Regions from separate parts of the Homo sapiens genome. Here region 2 is linked to region 1. Evidence: fine-mapped expression QTL. A gene starts in region 1. The other region holds a variant in brackets. All regions are shown on one strand. Distances are from middle to middle.

Evidence for each region. PIP is the estimated chance that this variant, and not a neighbour inherited with it, causes the effect.
Region 2: its variant is fine-mapped to the expression of SESN3 in whole blood (TOPMed, PIP above 0.99). The same link has a PIP of 0.9 or more in lung.

Annotation. Positions count from the first base shown.
Region 1 is chr11:95,226,384-95,235,126 of GRCh38, reverse strand. It overlaps SESN3 (sestrin 3), which reads left to right and starts at 3,925. Exons shown (of 10, transcript NM_144665.4): 1 at 3,925-4,344. The coding sequence starts at 4,267. It overlaps LOC100129203 (a long non-coding RNA gene), which reads right to left and starts at 4,941. Exons shown (of 6, transcript NR_110295.2): 1 at 4,632-4,941; 2 at 3,554-4,002; 3 at 2,951-3,075; 4 at 2,453-2,537; 5 at 2,208-2,247; 6 at 723-1,673. RefSeq lists enhancers at 2,267-2,906, 2,907-3,546 and silencers at 3,902-4,051, 4,062-4,371.
Region 2 is chr11:95,169,396-95,178,138 of GRCh38, reverse strand. It overlaps SESN3 (sestrin 3), which reads left to right. Exons shown (of 10, transcript NM_144665.4): 8 at 230-420; 9 at 2,497-2,641; 10 at 4,798-8,743. The coding sequence ends at 4,884. Among named protein-coding and RNA genes, the nearest start is that of LNCRNA-IUR, 23 kb to the right of the region's middle. The variant T/G (reference allele first, on the strand shown) is at 5,017.

The DNA.
Region 1 (8,743 bases):
GTCCAAAGTCACAGCATATTATTAACAGGGTAACTTCAATCAAACATGCTAAACACAAAAATTTTCCTTCAACCCTTCCTACACCTCTGGTTTGTGGTAACAACTTTCATTTGATAAAAGAGAGAATGATGCCCAACCCATAATAGTTAATACATTCAATGTCAGAGAAGGATTGGTGACAGGTAAGAACATGAGCCTAATCTCTCTGCTTCAAAGCAGTGGATTTTTCTGAACAATTCAATTCACATTTATTGGGGTGCTTTTATAAAGAGTGAAACTCATTACTTTCTCCAAAATTTTTTTGAGCACTTCCCTATCAGTTGAGCTAGGAGCCAAGGATACAAAGTAAATGTTACTCTATCCCTGCCTTCAAGGGGTTTGAAGTCTAATGAGAAAACAGGAGTTAAACCTACCATTTCCCTAGTGAGCTTTTTGGTAAAGAAGAGGTATAGAGGGGCACTATGGATGCTTGGACAAGTGCTTGATTCAGGAAGTGTTTCAACAGAAGATATTCACCAGGCAGAAGGAAGAAGGGAAAGGGATTAAGGTAGAGGTAGGTGGAATACTGATGGGCCTTATGCAGAATGATAGCTTTCAAATGATTGCTCTCACCTGTGTTCTTATTCAAATCTTTCCACAAAATATTATAGCAAGTTGCACCATGAGCCTTAAGACATATGTATACCCTTTTACTCAGAAATTCCAGGCCTAGGAATCAGAGATTCTGCCAGAAACTTAAGTATAAGGAAGTTTATTTTGTTATTTACAATCATGAAAAATCTGAAACAACCCACATATTAAACAATAGCATAAGGATTAAGTAAGTTATGGTACATCCAAGCCATGTAATTTTATGGATTCTTTGCTTAAAAAAATTACACTTTAAAAGAATAATTCAAAACAAGCAACATGATTATGAGATAACAGTTTTGAAATGATGTACAATGTTTAATGAAGTATCATCCTAATTTTGTAATAAAAAATTAAAAAGTAGTTCTCAACATTGGTTGTAATTTTCACTCATATCCTACTTTTCTAAAGTTCTTTCTTGTTTTAAACATACCAGACAACAAAAGGGGTGGAGTTTCTCCTTGTTCTATGTGCAATAAAAAGAACTGGCTTTTGTTTCTTTTCCTCTTAAGTGCGATCCTGGGTTTGAAATAAAATTCCCTTTATAATATTCAGGCTGGCCAAGAAAGGAAGGAAGGTCAGGTGAAGAATGGAAGAGAAAGGAGATGTCCAGAAACTGAACATTTCCATGAGAGAGGAGAATAACTATGATGGGAATGAGGGTGTGAGGACAGACCAGAAAGGGTGGTTGCTGTGTTAAGAATAAGGTACTGGCATTGAGTAGTTGAGGGCAGAACATAAACACATACATAATGGTTCACTGTAAGAAATGTCACAATGTAATACATGATTAACTGCCAAATAAATAGCACTACAGACAATACATATTATAATAGTTTGGAGGAATTTGGTGCAGAGAGCCATCATATGGTCAGATACATGTATGTGACCATGTATTATTGAAGATATTCATCTACTAAAATCTTCCTTTAGCGATCTTTGTTAGAGGGTGTTATTGTATAGGACTAGATTCTCTCGGCTTTCCTTTCTGGAGGATTTAGTTACTGAAGAACTTAAAGGAACTCATTTCGAAAGGATTTTAGCTGTCAAGTGAAAAAAGAAAAGAAAAGGTTATAAGAAGAATGTGCTAGAAAACAATATGAATTTAAAATTCTATTTGAGAAAATTCAATCTGCACAAAAATTCACTTCATCCTTCAATTTCTCCTTTCCTTTAAAATGTACTCACATAAAATCTGCTTTAAAAGCCAGAACCAGCCAGGAATATAGCCCAAGAAATTTACCACTAAATGGGGACACATATGTGTTTCTTAGAAAAACTGTGCCTTGCTGACTTTCTCCCTGCATTTCTTGGTTCTCTGCATCGAAGGGCATGTGGTAATTCCCTCCTTTTCTGAATTTACTTGCTTTTACAGTTTCTTCTAACTGAATCTTAAGCACCTTCCCCACACCATTCATTGCTCTTTAGTTATGTATGTCTACACAGCATCAAGCGACCTTTAGCTAACACTGGCTAAATAGATCAACACCTTTACCCAACTACATAACTTAGACCCTTTTGGGGTTTTCTACTCTATTTTGATCTATTTAAACCTGATACTAGCAGATTTCCATTACCTTTGTTTCTTGTGTAGACTTGGTTTATATGTGTTGGTCTCTAAAAAGGGACAGAGAGGAGACAGCTGTTGAGAAATGAGAATGGCAGTTTTAACCGCACAAATTGGTCTAATAGCTTTGATATGCTAAACTTGCTAGCTCCTCCAAGTGTACCTTTCCGATTTTGCATAACACCACCCTGAATCCCTAAGGAAACCAGGGTTGTTGTTTTTTTTTAATTAAAAAGAAAAGAAAGAAATGCAAACCAGTGAAACCGTTCTTTTAAATCATCTCCACATAGATTTCATTCTACGAACTTCAGGCCTTCACAAATCCTGGTACGCTGGAGACCTTTAAAAAGGGAGAAGCCGAGAATACTGATTAGGTTCTAAAAATCGAAAACAGGTGATGTCATAATGCACAGTCCTGTGGCCACGGCCATGGCCGGGTGGGGAGCTGGGCTCCAGTGAGCACAGAGCTCCTTGCCAGTAGGCGATGCAAGTTATCTCTGGGGCCCGGAGGACACGAGTGAGGACCGGGCACCAATCAGGTTCTCGCTCTGCGCCGGCCTTTGTTCTCACTCGGGAGCAGGTTGCGGGCGTCTAGCATCGGGAACCCGCATTCGACTCGGACGCGCATTGCTAGCCCCTTCGGGAGACCTGGCTCCCCTACCCGTCTGTCCCGCCACACTCGGTCAGCCTGCGCTTTCCCCAGTCAAGTCTGCCTTCTCTCCGCAGAACGTGGACGCTAAAACCCTGACTTACCATTTTAAGCTTTAGAAGAGGTAGGTTTGTCCCAATAGTTTTAAACGACAATTTGTTCTCTGAACCTTCCTTTCTGAGCAGGGCGCTGTGCTCTGCATGTATCCGAACAGCTGCCTCAGGAAGGTCTTTTGGGTGAGAAAACAAGCCCCTTTGGCCTTTTAGTGCTGGACAAGTAAATGAACTTACATCTCTAAGATAACTGCTAGAAGGTGCTTCACAAACAAGAGGAAACCGCTAAACCAGAGGTTTTGTGTCTCTCCCCTCAAACTCGATTACTTGCGTAAATATATATATAACTCAGACATTTATCCCCTATCCGCCTCCCAAGCCTCAAGTAACTGAAATCTTTGCAAAACAAGGTTCACAATAAATGATGCGTAAAGTTCTTTGAGATCCCTGGATACAAAGTACTACATAACTGCAGTCTTCTTTACAGCTAAAGTTAGATTTTGGTGGAGAGAAAGCCTAACCACTGCCCTGAAGGAAGGAACATTTAATCCTCCCACTCCCCTCCCCCTTTCTCGAGAGATCAGGAAATATTTAGCTCAATCTTAGACTCTCTAGCGAGCTCTAGCTCCCAACTATTTATCTCATTCTCCTCACCACTTCTGCAGGGACCTAGAGAAGGGGGCGTAGCTTATCTTGGGGGTGGGGCTTGGAGGGCAGTATATTTGCATATGACACACCCTCGTCCTCTTATTGGCAGAGGAGAGCAAACTGTTCCCTGCTACCCTACTACTTAGCTAACCGCCACCTCCCTTCAGTTCCGAGCCTCGGAGATAAACTTAACTTGCCCGGAGATTCAAGGCTTCCTCGGCCCCTGCGATTGGCCGGCGCGACTCCCAGTCGGGCTCTCGTTGCTCATTGGCTGCGGGCTAGCGCCCTGGGGGCGTAGCCGGAGCTGTCCGATTGGCGGGAGGGGCGGTACCGGAGCGTGGAGGTGGTGAAGGTGGTGGGGCGGCGGAGGCGGGGCCGCACTGAGGCGCTGCGGCGGCGGTGGTGGCGGTGGCAGCGGTGGCGGCTGCTCGTCCTAGCCTGGCGGGGGCGGGGGTCTGGAAGATGGGGGCGGGTGGAACAACGGGCCGGTGAGGAGCAGCCGCCGCCGTCTCCGCCGTCGCTGGGGCAGCTGCCGCGGTGGTCGCCTCTGGCAGTGCCGCTAGCTTTCAGGCAGTCGCCTCTCCTCCCGACATCCCGCCTTGAGGAGGCTGAGGCGGAATCGCGGCTGGCGGCGGGGGGACGGACCGGCCCTGCAGTGGCCGCAGTGACAGCCCGGACCCGGCCCTCCGCCCGCTCTCGCCTCGGCGCCCGCAGCCACGATGAACCGGGGCGGCGGCAGCCCGTCGGCCGCCGCCAACTACCTGCTCTGTACCAACTGCCGGAAAGTGCTGCGGAAGGTACGGGTTCGGCCCGGGGTCCTGCCGGCGAGGGTCGCTTCCTGCCGGCCGGGGCTCGGGCGGCTCGTCCCCGGGCGCGCACTGGGGGAGGCTGAGAGGGATCCCCGGGCACCGTCCCTCCGCAGGGACTGAGAAAGGGGGCGTGGGTTGAGGGCAGGAGGGTTTGGACTACTGCGGCTTTTTATTTCCGCCGGGACAGACCCAAGTCTGGAGGGGTTGGGATATTTTTTCTTCCCTTGTTCCTTTTATTTGGTGCCTTTGCTCTCCTTTACGGCTCATTTCCCTACCTTGCTACCCCGGGTCGGCTCCTTGGGCGGAGGGCGGGAGGGATCCGTTCGATCCTCCTCCCTGTGCAGTTTAGCTGTTGATGGAGGTCGGTGTGAAATCAGAGCAGCTGGGTCGGATCCCGAGGAACCTGGCCCCTCTTTGCTGTGGCTAACTCTTGCGAGTGTTGTTTTTGTTTATTCGGTTGCTTCTGCCTTGCGCGCCTTGCTCAACAACCCCCGTTTTCAAATTGTTTGGATGGTAGTCCTGTGTCTGTAGTTCAGTCTCGAAAGGAACCAGTAAAGCATCTTGAACTTTATGCCCATGGGAAATGCAATTCGACCTGGCCAGTTCCTGAGGCTGGGGTTGGGGGAGGAGAAGACTGAGGTGGATGTGGGTTATTCCTCCTTAGCACCCCCCTGCCCCCGTGTTGATCCAGAAAAATGAGGCGCACCATCAGTTTATTGCTGCTTCCTAGAGTGACTGATAGAAAGTTTACTCCAGTATTGTTTAGCTTACTTGGCTTAATCGCCCCGCGGGGAAGGGCGAGAGGGATGGGGAAGGGAATGAAAAAAAGGTCTCTAGACTTTTTGATCAGATTTTAACAGCTGCCCCAAAGTAATATTATAATCAGTTTATTCGTATTCAAACTCTATTTTTACATTTTATTAAGTGGAAACGTTAGGTGAGATGCTTCTGTTTGTTCACTACAAATGAATTAAAATTGCTGAGCTGTGCAAATGCATCGGGACTGAAAGCGGAGATGAATATGGTACCGTTTTTAGTCAACATCTCTAAATACGGTTCACTTTGGGATTGTTCTTTCTACATTTTTTTTTAAAAAAGGAAGAAAGAAAAAAGCACATAAGTAAGCAAGCTCAAATATTTGCGCTCTTTGTCCAAAAACTGTTTTTCTTCCTCTGTGGGTCAGGCCAAGTGCCAATCAAAGTTGTTTTTCAAGCCTCTTTTCCCTGCAGTAGGGCTGCTGCTTTTTTTTTTCTTCCTATTTTATTTGAGAGCGTGAGAGCAAAGGGATTGCAGATTTGAGGTTAATTGAACAGTTAAATATGCCTTAAATTGTGTTTATTGGATATGTTTCTCTTGAAACAGATTTTTATTAAATGTGCATGTTGAGTATGTGCAGTTATTTTTTTCCATAAACTCTAGGATCAAATTACAGTTGATACTTGCTCAGCTCATTGTAGGGTAGCTTGTGAGAAATGTAATGGATCAGAAGTGCAGATCAGCTTAGTTGGATGTTAACTCTTTCACTGCAGGGCCAGATGTCATCTGAACTTAGCTTTCAAAAAAATTTATTTCTTAATTTTTAAATTTATGTTATGTCTTTGACATGAAAAAATGTGTCATTTAAGACATGTTTGATTAAAGTGCAGCCTGGTTAAAATGACAGCAAGTTATGCTTTTTAATTGAATAAGGAAAAAGAGCACTGTATTGACTTTGATAAAAAAATTTTTTAATGGCTCTGGCAATTTGTTAGGCTAATAAAATGTTTGGAGGTAATATTAGGCTTCAAAATGTATTTCATTTTTCTTTTGAGAGAGCTATGGCTATGGATCCATGACACTTTGCTAGCATTTAAGATATTACATCTTTCCTTTAGCTTTTAGGAAACTATTTCTGTTTACCTAGAAAGAACATCCTCATTTCTAGCCATTATTAAAAGAAACGTGGAAAAAGAGTATTCACATTTTCGTATTTTATAATTGCTGAGCACATCTCTGCCAGTATTCCAGTTTTTAGTAACTCCAAGGTATTTAATATTGATTCATGCAGTGGCATGAAATAACTTAATGGAAATAGGATTCTTTGAGCCAGTTATAACATGACTTGGCAACATTTGCAGCTTTTTAAAGAGTGCCACTTTGAAGTGCTCTTAAGAGAATCAGTATGTAGCATTTTAAATGTTTCATCATTCTTAAAATAACAATGAAAAGTTTATTTCTAATAAAGACATGTTTTTCTTGTTGATATAACTCTAAGTTAAAAGTCATCTATAACTCTCAAAATGTGATTCTTAGAGTTTATCTTGTTTTCCATTTAATAAAGTGTTCAGTAATGTAGCCAAGTGAGTCATAGTATTTTGAATGTTTGTTCAGTCTAATTCATAATGGAAGAATGAAACTCATGCTCATCCAGTGTGAATTACTTTTGCTTTTATATTTCTATATAATGATGGAAGAAGGGTCACCTTTATATGGGACAGAAAGTGTTATTCTCTCAGTAGGTGGCTTAATTTGTTGCAGTGTGTTGAATTTTAGGGGAACTTCACAAGGAATGGAATTCACCTTCAAATGAAATAATATGGTTTAACCCAATGCCTGAATATTGAATTATATATTGTATGAGAATTACATTTATTCTTAGAAGTCCGTTTACGGTTTTGATTTAGTATCCTCCAAAATAAAGAGACTTATTAAAATATTGAATGTACCTAATTTGGTAACCTTAGGACAGTAAAAAGAATGGAGAGGTAAACCATATCCATAAATAAATTAACCATCAAAACTATCCTGAAATCCCTAACTCTTAAGTCTAACTTGCTCTATTGTCAATGAGGTAGTTCAGTAAAGTTTTTAATAAAAGAGGAAATGCTTCTATTTATTTTGTAAAGTTAACGAGTTTTTAAGTTTAATCTTTTACTTGAAGAAATTCTAGTGATAACTAGAAGAACATAATCCTTTAATTTGAAAAGTCATGTGTCAAACTGCATTGAGGAAGGTAGGTAATTATCAGTCCACTCATCTTCCAGTAAATAAAAAAGTGGCATATTCCAATGTACTTTGGGTATTGAGCAGTTAGTGCTACTTAAATGAATAGTTTTGTGCTCTTTAGAGGATCTAACATTTAAACTTTTTTAATGTTAAGATAGTTATAGTGATATATCTTTGTATTGTTATTGCACTTTTCACTTTGTTATATGATCATATATTTTGACATCTTTTTGATGGTTTTATAAACAAAGATACTGTCAAAATGAAAAATACTAGATTGAGGACCGGGCATGGTGGCTTACGCCTGTAATCCCAGCACTTTGGGAGGCCAAGGTGGGCAGATCACGAGGTCAAAAGATCGAGACCATCCTGGCCAACATGGTGAAACCCCATATCTACTAAAAATACAAAAATTAGCTGGGCGTGGAATCGTGTGCCTGTAGTCCCAGTTACTCAGGAGGCTGAGGCAGGAGAATCACTTGAACCTGGGAGGCGGAGGTTGTGGTGAGCCAAGGTTGTGGTGAGCCAAGGTCACGCCACTGCACTGCAGCCTGAGCAACAAGAGCAAAACTCTGTCTCAAAAAAAAAGACAAAAAAAAAAAAGAAAAATACTAGATTGAACTATATGAGCCTCATTTTTATAGTCAAAATTGTTAAGTAATAGCAACTTTATATGGTTTAGCCAATAAAATGTATTTGCTCTATCTGTGGACCACTAGTTACATTATGCCTTGGTTAATCAGTTTTCTTGTGTTACATATTTTTGATTGTCAAAGGCAGTTTTTAACTTGATTATCTTAAATATCCTAAGCAGAGATCAAGTAGTTAATTAGTGATGGCAAACCTTTATGCAATGGTTTTCAAACTGCTTCGTATGGACCCTTAAGATTCTTTGGGGTTTTAAAATGCTTGAGTTGCATTAAATTTTTAAGTATGTTTTAACTTATTTTAAAACTGTAATTTAAAAATATGGGTACCCCCAAATATGTACACATAATTTTAATAACTGGAGTCTAACACCATTATCTTTCATTACAAAATTATTCTTGTGCAGGTCTTGAATTACAATTTGTTCTGCTATCTTTGTACAGATATTTGAATTTTTTTTTGTTACTGTGTCATGTATGAGAAAGATTGTCATTGATTGTGAAGGAACTGGCTTTTTAAAAAGAATTCCTTCCATATTTACTTAAGTTAAATGTTTACTTGTGAGAACACAAATTTATTGTTATCAGTAGTTGTAACTTTATTACTAAAATACTTGAAAGTTGCTTGGTATATTTATATGCTTTATAGTTCAGGTTCAATAGAAGATTTAATTTGTAAAAAGTGTTCTGCTGCTTCCCCCAACTCCCCACCCTAAATAAATAGAAAACATAACTACTAATGTAGTGATACTGGA
Region 2 (8,743 bases), 57 kb after region 1:
CCAGAGTTCATCACTAACATGGCAAATCCCATACCCCATGAAGAAACATCCAGACACTCTGATCTACTAACTGATGTGAAGGGTTATTGGTAAAGCCTTAGTAAAGCTGAAAACCTAGAGCTAAATTAGAAATAGCCTCGCTTACTTGCTTCATTAGTTATATTTAATAATACATAGAATTTAGATGGAAAATGCCCACTTTGTAATTAAATACATTTTATTCTTTTAGGACTATACCTGGGAAAATCATGGGTTCTCCCTGGTGAACAGACTTTATTCTGACATTGGACATCTTCTTGATGAAAAGTTTCGGATGGTCTACAATCTCACATATAACACTATGGCCACCCATGAGGATGTTGACACAACCATGCTGCGCAGAGCTTTATTTAACTATGTTCACTGTATGTTTGGAATCAGGTATGTTCATTGTAGAGACAGTTTTTTACATTTCTAAGTGAAAATTCAAGCATGAGTCTTATTTTTGTCCTGTTTGGGAGTATATGACTCTGGGAAGAAAATATTACATGTAGACTTCTGATTTTAAAAATTAATTTCATTTTATGGAGAAGCATTTTTCTTTAAGTGTTATGAATCTTAACATTGATGCACATGTAAATATAGTGGTAAAAATTTACTGAGGGAAAAAAGCATCAGTAATGATTGGGGATAGGATAGAATTAGACCAAATTTGAGAATCCTTCCTGGAAGAACAGGTGAGTTTTAAAAAAACAGGTGTAGTGTCCCTTTAGATCACTATAATAAATTCTGGTTTGTTTAGTTAGTTTGGTCTTTTTAAAACTTATTTTTTAAGGAATGGTAATTACGGTATAAACAAAACTGTACTAGGTTGTGCCTTCATAAGCTTACATAAGGTCACATAACACTGAAATTAAATATATCAGCCAATATAAATTAATGACCTCTAAATTTAGAAAATTAGCATTGAGAGGACAGTAAGTACATGAGATTGAATAGTCTAATCAAGAAAGCACTTTTTGGAGAATGTGCCTTTTTGAGTTGTGGTTTTGAGGCTTTTATGGAAATAGATTAGCAGACAGAAAAACTTTCCAGTTACAAATTATTCAACTTGACTATATAGATATATATCAGACAGACTTTATGATAATTAGAATTTAATCGGTTAAGCAAAGTATTTTCTATAATTTTAGCTGAAGAACCCCAAAATTTACTGATAAATCGCCTAATAACACGATATTCCATGTAATAGATTATGGTTGTATGTAATAACTGAGCTATTTGTCCATTTACCATGCTAGACAATGTTATCAAAGAATCAATACATTTTAAAACACATATATATCATATCTACCTACTTAAGAAAAATAAACACCGATAAAACTCAATTTAAATGCAATAAATATGTATTGGATACAAGGCAACAAATGTGGTGAATATATCTGTTGGATGCTACAAAATAAAGCTTACATAAATGCATCAAGATACTCTTTTTATTAAACTAAGCATTATATGGGTTAAAAATTAACTGAAAATGTAACAGAGAAATTCCACAAGTTCCCAATACTACATTTACCTACCTGTCTACATCTGTGCCCATTTACTCTGCTGTCATTACTGTCTATGTTCCTATACACTTATGCACAAAATCCCATTTCTCATTTTCTAAAGATCTCAGTTCTAGCAATGCTCCCTTCTCTCTCCAGCATAATCAGCTTTACTCCCATTTTGGATCTTTCCCATCAGCATTGAAACACACTTAATTTCTCCCATCTTTAAAGAAAATTTCAGTTTCACCTTTCATTTCCATCTGGCTACTGCCTCATTTTCTGCTTTCGTGCGAAGCAAATCTCTGACAAAATTGTGTATATTTACTGTCACTATTTTCTTATCTCCCATTCTCTCTTGAACCTATTCACAGTATCAGGCTTTTGTCCCTATCAACCAACAAAACTGCTCTTACCGAGGTTGCTAGTGACCTCCATATAGCTACTTCCAGTGGTCAGTTCCCAGTTATCTTATTTGACTATTTGGCAGCATGGGACTCAGTGATTACTTGCTCTTCCCTGAAACACTTGACTCCTACCTCAAGTCCTTTACACTTGCTTCTTTACCACCATCTGGTATTTGTTCAAATATCAAGGCTTTCAGAGAAGCCTTCCTGCCCACCCTATTTAAAATAACAACTCCTCTCCTCCCAGACCAAGTTCCATTTCCTCTCCATGGCAGTTATCACCATCTGACTACAATGTGTTTATCTTTTTAATTTTTCTTCGTTTTTTCTTCAACAAAATTTAAGCTCCATGAGACCAAGGATTTTTGTCTGTTTTGTTCACTAGTATATCACTACTACTGAGTACTCATGGCACATAATGGGTACTCAGTAAACATTTGTTGATTCAATTAATTAACGAGCTTTTAGTATTTAATTACTAGACAATAAATGTCCTTAGTATAACTTTGGAAACTAAATATTTTGATTTTGTCATTATAAAGCTATTGTTGTATTGCTCGTAGGTATGATGACTATGATTATGGAGAAGTTAATCAATTACTTGAAAGAAGCCTGAAGGTTTACATTAAGACAGTGACCTGCTATCCTGAGAGAACTACAAAACGCATGTATGATAGTTACTGGCGGCAGTTCAAACACTCAGAAAAAGTACGTGTTTCAGTATTAAGCATTATACCATAGACAGTTCTTCAGTACAAGAAGTAATAGTTATGAAAAATGACACATGAAAGTATTAATAAATTATAGCCATTGACATGGAAGTGGCATCATCTAGCTATCTGGGGTTTTTTTGCTTGTTTGTTTGCCAGGCTGGAATGCAGTGGCACGATCTCAGCTCACTGCAACCTCCACTTCCCGGGTTCAAGTGATTCTTCTGCCTCACCCTCCCGAGTAGCTGAGATTACAGGTGCCTGCCACCACGCCTGGCTAATTTTTGTATTTTTAGTAGAGGTGGGGTTTCACCATGTTAGTCAGACTGGTCTCAAACTCCTGACCTCAGGTGATCTGCCCACCTCGGCTTCCCAAAGTGCTGGGATTACAGGCAGGAGCCACTGTGCCCAGCAGAAACCGTTGTCTTAATAGGTTAACTTTAGTGGTTAAAGAATCTCGAAATGGATGTGCCTTCTGGGCCAAAATACAATTATACCTAATACAACATTTCAGTATGTCTGATTTTTATTAATAGTTAGAACTGTAGACAGTTTTCCAAATGTGCTTTGAAGATATCAGTACTCAGATCTAGTATTTCTAAGGCTTACGATAAACTTTTATATGCTATATTGAACAAAGCATATAACCAAAATTGGGTTACTAGTCAATAAATCTGAATTAAAAAAATATTTTAAAAACCCAGATAGTGGCTGGGTGCAGTGGCTCCCGCCTGTAATCCTAGCACTTTGGGAGGCCGAGGTGGGGGGATCACCTGAGGTCAGGAGTTCAAAACTAGCCAGGCCAACATGTAGTGAAACCCCATTTCTACTAAAAAATACAAAAATTAGCTGGGCATGGTTGTGCATGCCTGTTGTCCCAGCTACTTGGGAATCTGAGGCAGGAGAATCGCTTGAACCCAGGAGGCAGAGGTTGCAGTGAGCCGAGATCACTCCACTGCACTCCAGCCTGGGCAACAGAGCAAGACTTCATCTCTCGAAAAAAAGACAATAGATTTTTACCCAAACTTGGTAATTTAGTGTTTTGACAGTATAATTCAGGACCTTTGAGCCAAATATACTGTTACATAAAAATATTTATTTGAAAGAAATATATAGGCAACATGAAGTTAGAAAACCTAATAAATGTTAAGGATCTTTATCAACATCATAGTATAAGAGCTGGCCTTAAGTCCTAGGACTTTTAACCTTTAAGTTCAAGAATCTCCTTTATACAACAGTTTCGAAGCTTGAAAGTAAGAAAATCTTTTTAGGAAACATTCGCTAATAAACTGTATGATCTTAGCAGAGAATGTTATGGCTTCAGTACCTAACAGATTTTTTGAAGTCTTAGAGCCACTCACATCAGGTAAATACCCATTTTACATCCAGCATTTCCCCTTGATGGGTCTTTATCCCATATTTATATGTTTGCTCTAGATTTTCTTCCTTTTCTAGATTGTATCTAGAAATTCTCTTTACTCTTCAGGAGAATATATCCAACCACATATCCAACTGGTATAAATATATCAAAAGAATATAATATTAAAACATATTTTTATAGTAAATTTTGAAAACTTGTGGATACCCATTTTAACTTATCAGCCGAGATGTAACCCCGAAAGAAATGTTCTGCAGAATTTTATCTGAAAGACTCTAGGGAAGCTATGTATGTCTAACAAGTATCAAACACTAATCAGAAACTTTAAACATCAGATTTTCACTTTAGTATCTTTTAAGTAAATACTAGGAAAAATTTTTTAAAGCTTTTCACAGGATAAGCATAAACTGTTAAAAAAAAAAATGAGGGCTGATTTTTAGCCATGTAAAATTTTATAACTAGAAAGAAATGTAATTTGTAGGAAAATTATAATTTATAAAAATTAGTTTTATTTTATAACCCAACAGATTGACTTTACAAAAATAACAACTTTAATAAAGTTATCAGAATTTTTTAGATTTTATGGGTTATTTTTACTGCTTGCAGAGCCATTAGACACAGGTTTGAGTGTTGCATCATGAACATGGATAAATATGCCTAGGTGTGTGTGTGTGTGTATATTGCTTATATACACATAAAAAAACCTTTGTGAATGTCTAATAAGATTTTCCAGGTGTTTATAATGGTTACTAAACTGATAACATTTTCACTTCTAGGTTCATGTCAATCTACTTTTAATGGAAGCACGAATGCAAGCTGAACTTCTTTATGCTCTTCGTGCCATAACTCGGCATTTGACCTGAAGTATCACCCAAGGAAAATGTCATACATGTGTAAAGACCTTTCACATAAGATAAACATTGAAGCTATTTGTGATATAGCATCAAAAATTATTCAGTTCTCTAGTGTCAAAGTTTAGCCGTTTGTTTTTTTTT[T/G]TTTGTTTTTTGCGGCTGTAATGTGCAATGATGTGTTTTATTTTCCTTGATGCTTAACATTACTAACAATTGCAAAAATAATACTGAGGAGCACTACTTTGCATTGTTTGTAGTTGGAGTTTTGGATACTGATCATAAATCATGAATCTGGCGTATTAATGCTTAACTTCAGCGCCTTTGGGTTGTGTGTATGTGTATTTTTTCTCCCCCCACCCCGCCCTTTTTTTTTTAAGAATAAGGACAAGTGCTTACAATCTGCTCAAGCAATTGTTTTTCAGATATTGGAATTCAGCAAAGAGTGACCTCTCTGGCCATTCTAAAACTTTAATGTTGTGTCCTAAATCTGGTGGAGGAAAAGCATGCGCTGTTGAACCAAGCTGCTCACTGGACACATATTTGTGTCCCCAGGAGATTATTTGTCAGGCACTGTTTTTTATTTGTTTGTTTGTTCATTTATTGTTGTTTTACTGCTATTGGCGATAACATGAAATGTGATACAGCTATTGCCCATAATTTAATGTGAAATTAATCATGATGAATTCTATAGCATGCTACTGAAATGCCAAATTCAGCTATTTTCTTTCTCTTCTAAAATGGAAGTTTCAGTTTTCCATATCAGATGTATATAAGTGGAATTATAACACAATCCTATCACTGACAGTAATCCTCAGTCACCTTAAATAATCAGTGCTCACAGTGCTGCTTACAGTTCATTTAGTTGGCACATATAAACCTGTACCCACACAAGACTGACCAAAAATTTTCTTTGCACATTTTTCCTTTCTCATAGTTTTTTTCTATATTTCGTTAAGCAAAGGAAGGTTAATATGCCTATTTTTCCTGTTAGGCTTTTAGAAATTATTTTCCATGACTTTTGTTCTTATAATAGGTTAGACAGTTTATTTTTCAAAGGTAAAAATTGTGTTTCTATGCATTAATGTGATTGAACTACAAAAACAGAGTGCAATATGTTCAAAAAATACTCAACTAAACTTTCCCCCTGTCATATCACTGCAAAAGTGTCCTTTTAAACAGAGCCATAAAGAAATTTTTTTCAAATTTCTTTATTGCACAGGCTTTTTTCAGTTTTACCTTTCTGGGATTGAACAATGTTCCTTTCATAATGCCAAAGCATTCCCTTCCCCAGAAAAATCTCCTTGGACAACTGGTTTAAAAACGTTATTAAGTCATAGGGGAGGAATAAGCGGCCAAAAAGTCACATTTTTGCATTGGTTTACGTTGCTTGATTAGACTATCTTCAGAGAGCACATTATGTGTTTATAGCTTTAATTTGTATTATGTCAATGAACCAGTGAAGTGCCTAAAGAGATGCTTACAACTATCCAGTAGGACACAACTGCACTGCTTTTTAAACACTTTTTGGTTAGTTAAGGGTGACTTGAATTGTACACATACATGCTAATTTTTGAAAACTTATCCATTTTTCATAGTAAATAATATAGATAAAATTTTCTGTTAGAGTTCCCGCAAATATTTCATTTTAGACTTACTTGTGATATAAGATTTAACTTTTCTTTTGTGAAAGAATCGTGAACTAGTGTTTCATGAAATCATTTTCCTCTTCCATTTATCATCCTCCTCTGGTACAATATATTGGGTTGCTTTCTTTTAGATTTTGTTCCAGATAGGAAAACAAATATGACTGTATACTTATTAACATAAGGTAGTTCTGCATTTTTGGATTCCAGGATCCTGTTTGAAATCTTCCATGTGAGGAAAAAATTACTAATATTTTTAAAGACAGGGTGGTTTATTTAAAGAGATTATTCAGAGAACTTGTGCCATATCTCGTCTGTTTTATTGCATATGCCATATGTTAACTTTTATTCAATATTACATTATGTAGATATGTAATACAAAGAAAATATTTAGGAGAATGGCAAAACACAAATGGCAACATAAATGTCCATTTGACTTACCTAACTTCACAACTTTCAAGTTGAGGATGTCATTTATTCTTGAATTTGTTTTTTTACTAGATGCTTTCAATTAATAGCCCTATATTTTTGTGCAGGCGAACTGTATAACAGGATAAAAAATGATTTGTATGTATTGAAAAGGAGGAGAAATTCTCACAGAACACCATATGAGCTTTAGACCAAAAGGGGAAACAAGGTTTAAGTAACTAAAATGGCCACTTAGTTTGTGTTTATTTTTTTCCCTGGAAATGTAAGTAGTTGGAGTTTAGGCTATGGAAATATTAGTGCCTTTAATAGATCTCTTTCCTTGCAAAGTTTCTTTTTAGCTCAGCATTGATCTATCTTATCAATAGGAAAATAAGTTGACTTGGAACTATAAACAAAAACAACACCATATATTTATGAACCTCAGTGAACCAGCCTAGAAAAATTGACTTCTGCAGGTGCTAAAGCACCTACTAATACGCAGCATGCACAGCATTTCAGGTTGTGAATACCATTTTACAACGAGTTTGCTGTTAACTCTCTTTATCCAATGCAAACTTGAAATTCTGATGCGGTTTTCCAGGGTGGTATTTTTTCAGAGTATTGAATTTACTATTTAGTAATTTATAGTATAGCTTTTTATATTAAAATGTGATATTTTTAAAAGAGATATCTGGTTCAATTGGTATAATGACGTGATTATGCAATATGCTGATCTACACCTTGCGCTCACATTGTGCCAAACTTAAATGTGCAAGTGTACGTGAGAAAAGCACATGTGAATGTGAATTCTTTAATTCTTTGCTTATTATGTTAAAATTAGTCTTCATAGTCCACTGATGTGTATGCTTGAATAATGTCTATTTACTTTGGAATTTCAAGATTTCCAGCTTCAATGGTAATTTATAATTTCTCAGATCACCTTAAGAAATATTGAGATACTCTCCCACCTGAAAATAATCTGTTCTTTAACCCACCTGACTATGGGAGTAGCCAGGCAGGTGCCTCACTGGCTTCTTCAGACGAGGCTTCCTCAGGTGGATATATGACTATTAGGGGAAAAGAGGCTTTTGAGACAGCTTATTACCTCCTTCCCCTTTTTGAACTAAGTACATTGTCTCAGTCCCAGTATGAATTTGTCCCATTTGGGGTATTTTTAAAATAAAAGATGGCTAACATGGAATCTGGGGCATAGCCTTGGCCTTTAATTATGGTTGTAAGCCCAAATAATGGCAGAGAAACACAGGGCTGTTTTTACAACAGAAAACTCAATATAAGTTTTATATAAGAATCCTATAAAATTTGAACCAGAGCTCCTATTTAGTTGTTATAATGTCTCCTAAAGATCTTAAATGCTTCTAAAAGCTAATTATTATTCCAGAGCAACTTTTTCCTTTTCCCCCTTATAAAGTTTTTTTTTAAATCCAAAATCTTAGATTTCTGTGCCACAGCAAAATAAAATGATCAACAATTAAAGATCTGTACTTAAAATAGTACACCATTTTTAGTGGAGGGAGGGTGCATGCCTATATGATGGTAAGATTCTTTTGAACTCTAAGGACAATTCCTCATGGAAAAAATAAATTTCAGTGCATATTATAAAAATGATTTGCACTGTGTTAGCAAAATAAGGTGTTTTAGGTTGTATTTTAAAGACAATTCTAAATCATTTCTCTGGAAAGCAAGACCTTAAATTCTTCTCTTTAATAGAACTGCTTTTATGCAAAGAGATGGTCTTAACATGGACTAAACAGTACATAACAATAATGTTTGTTATGTAAATAGTATATCACATTTGCTTA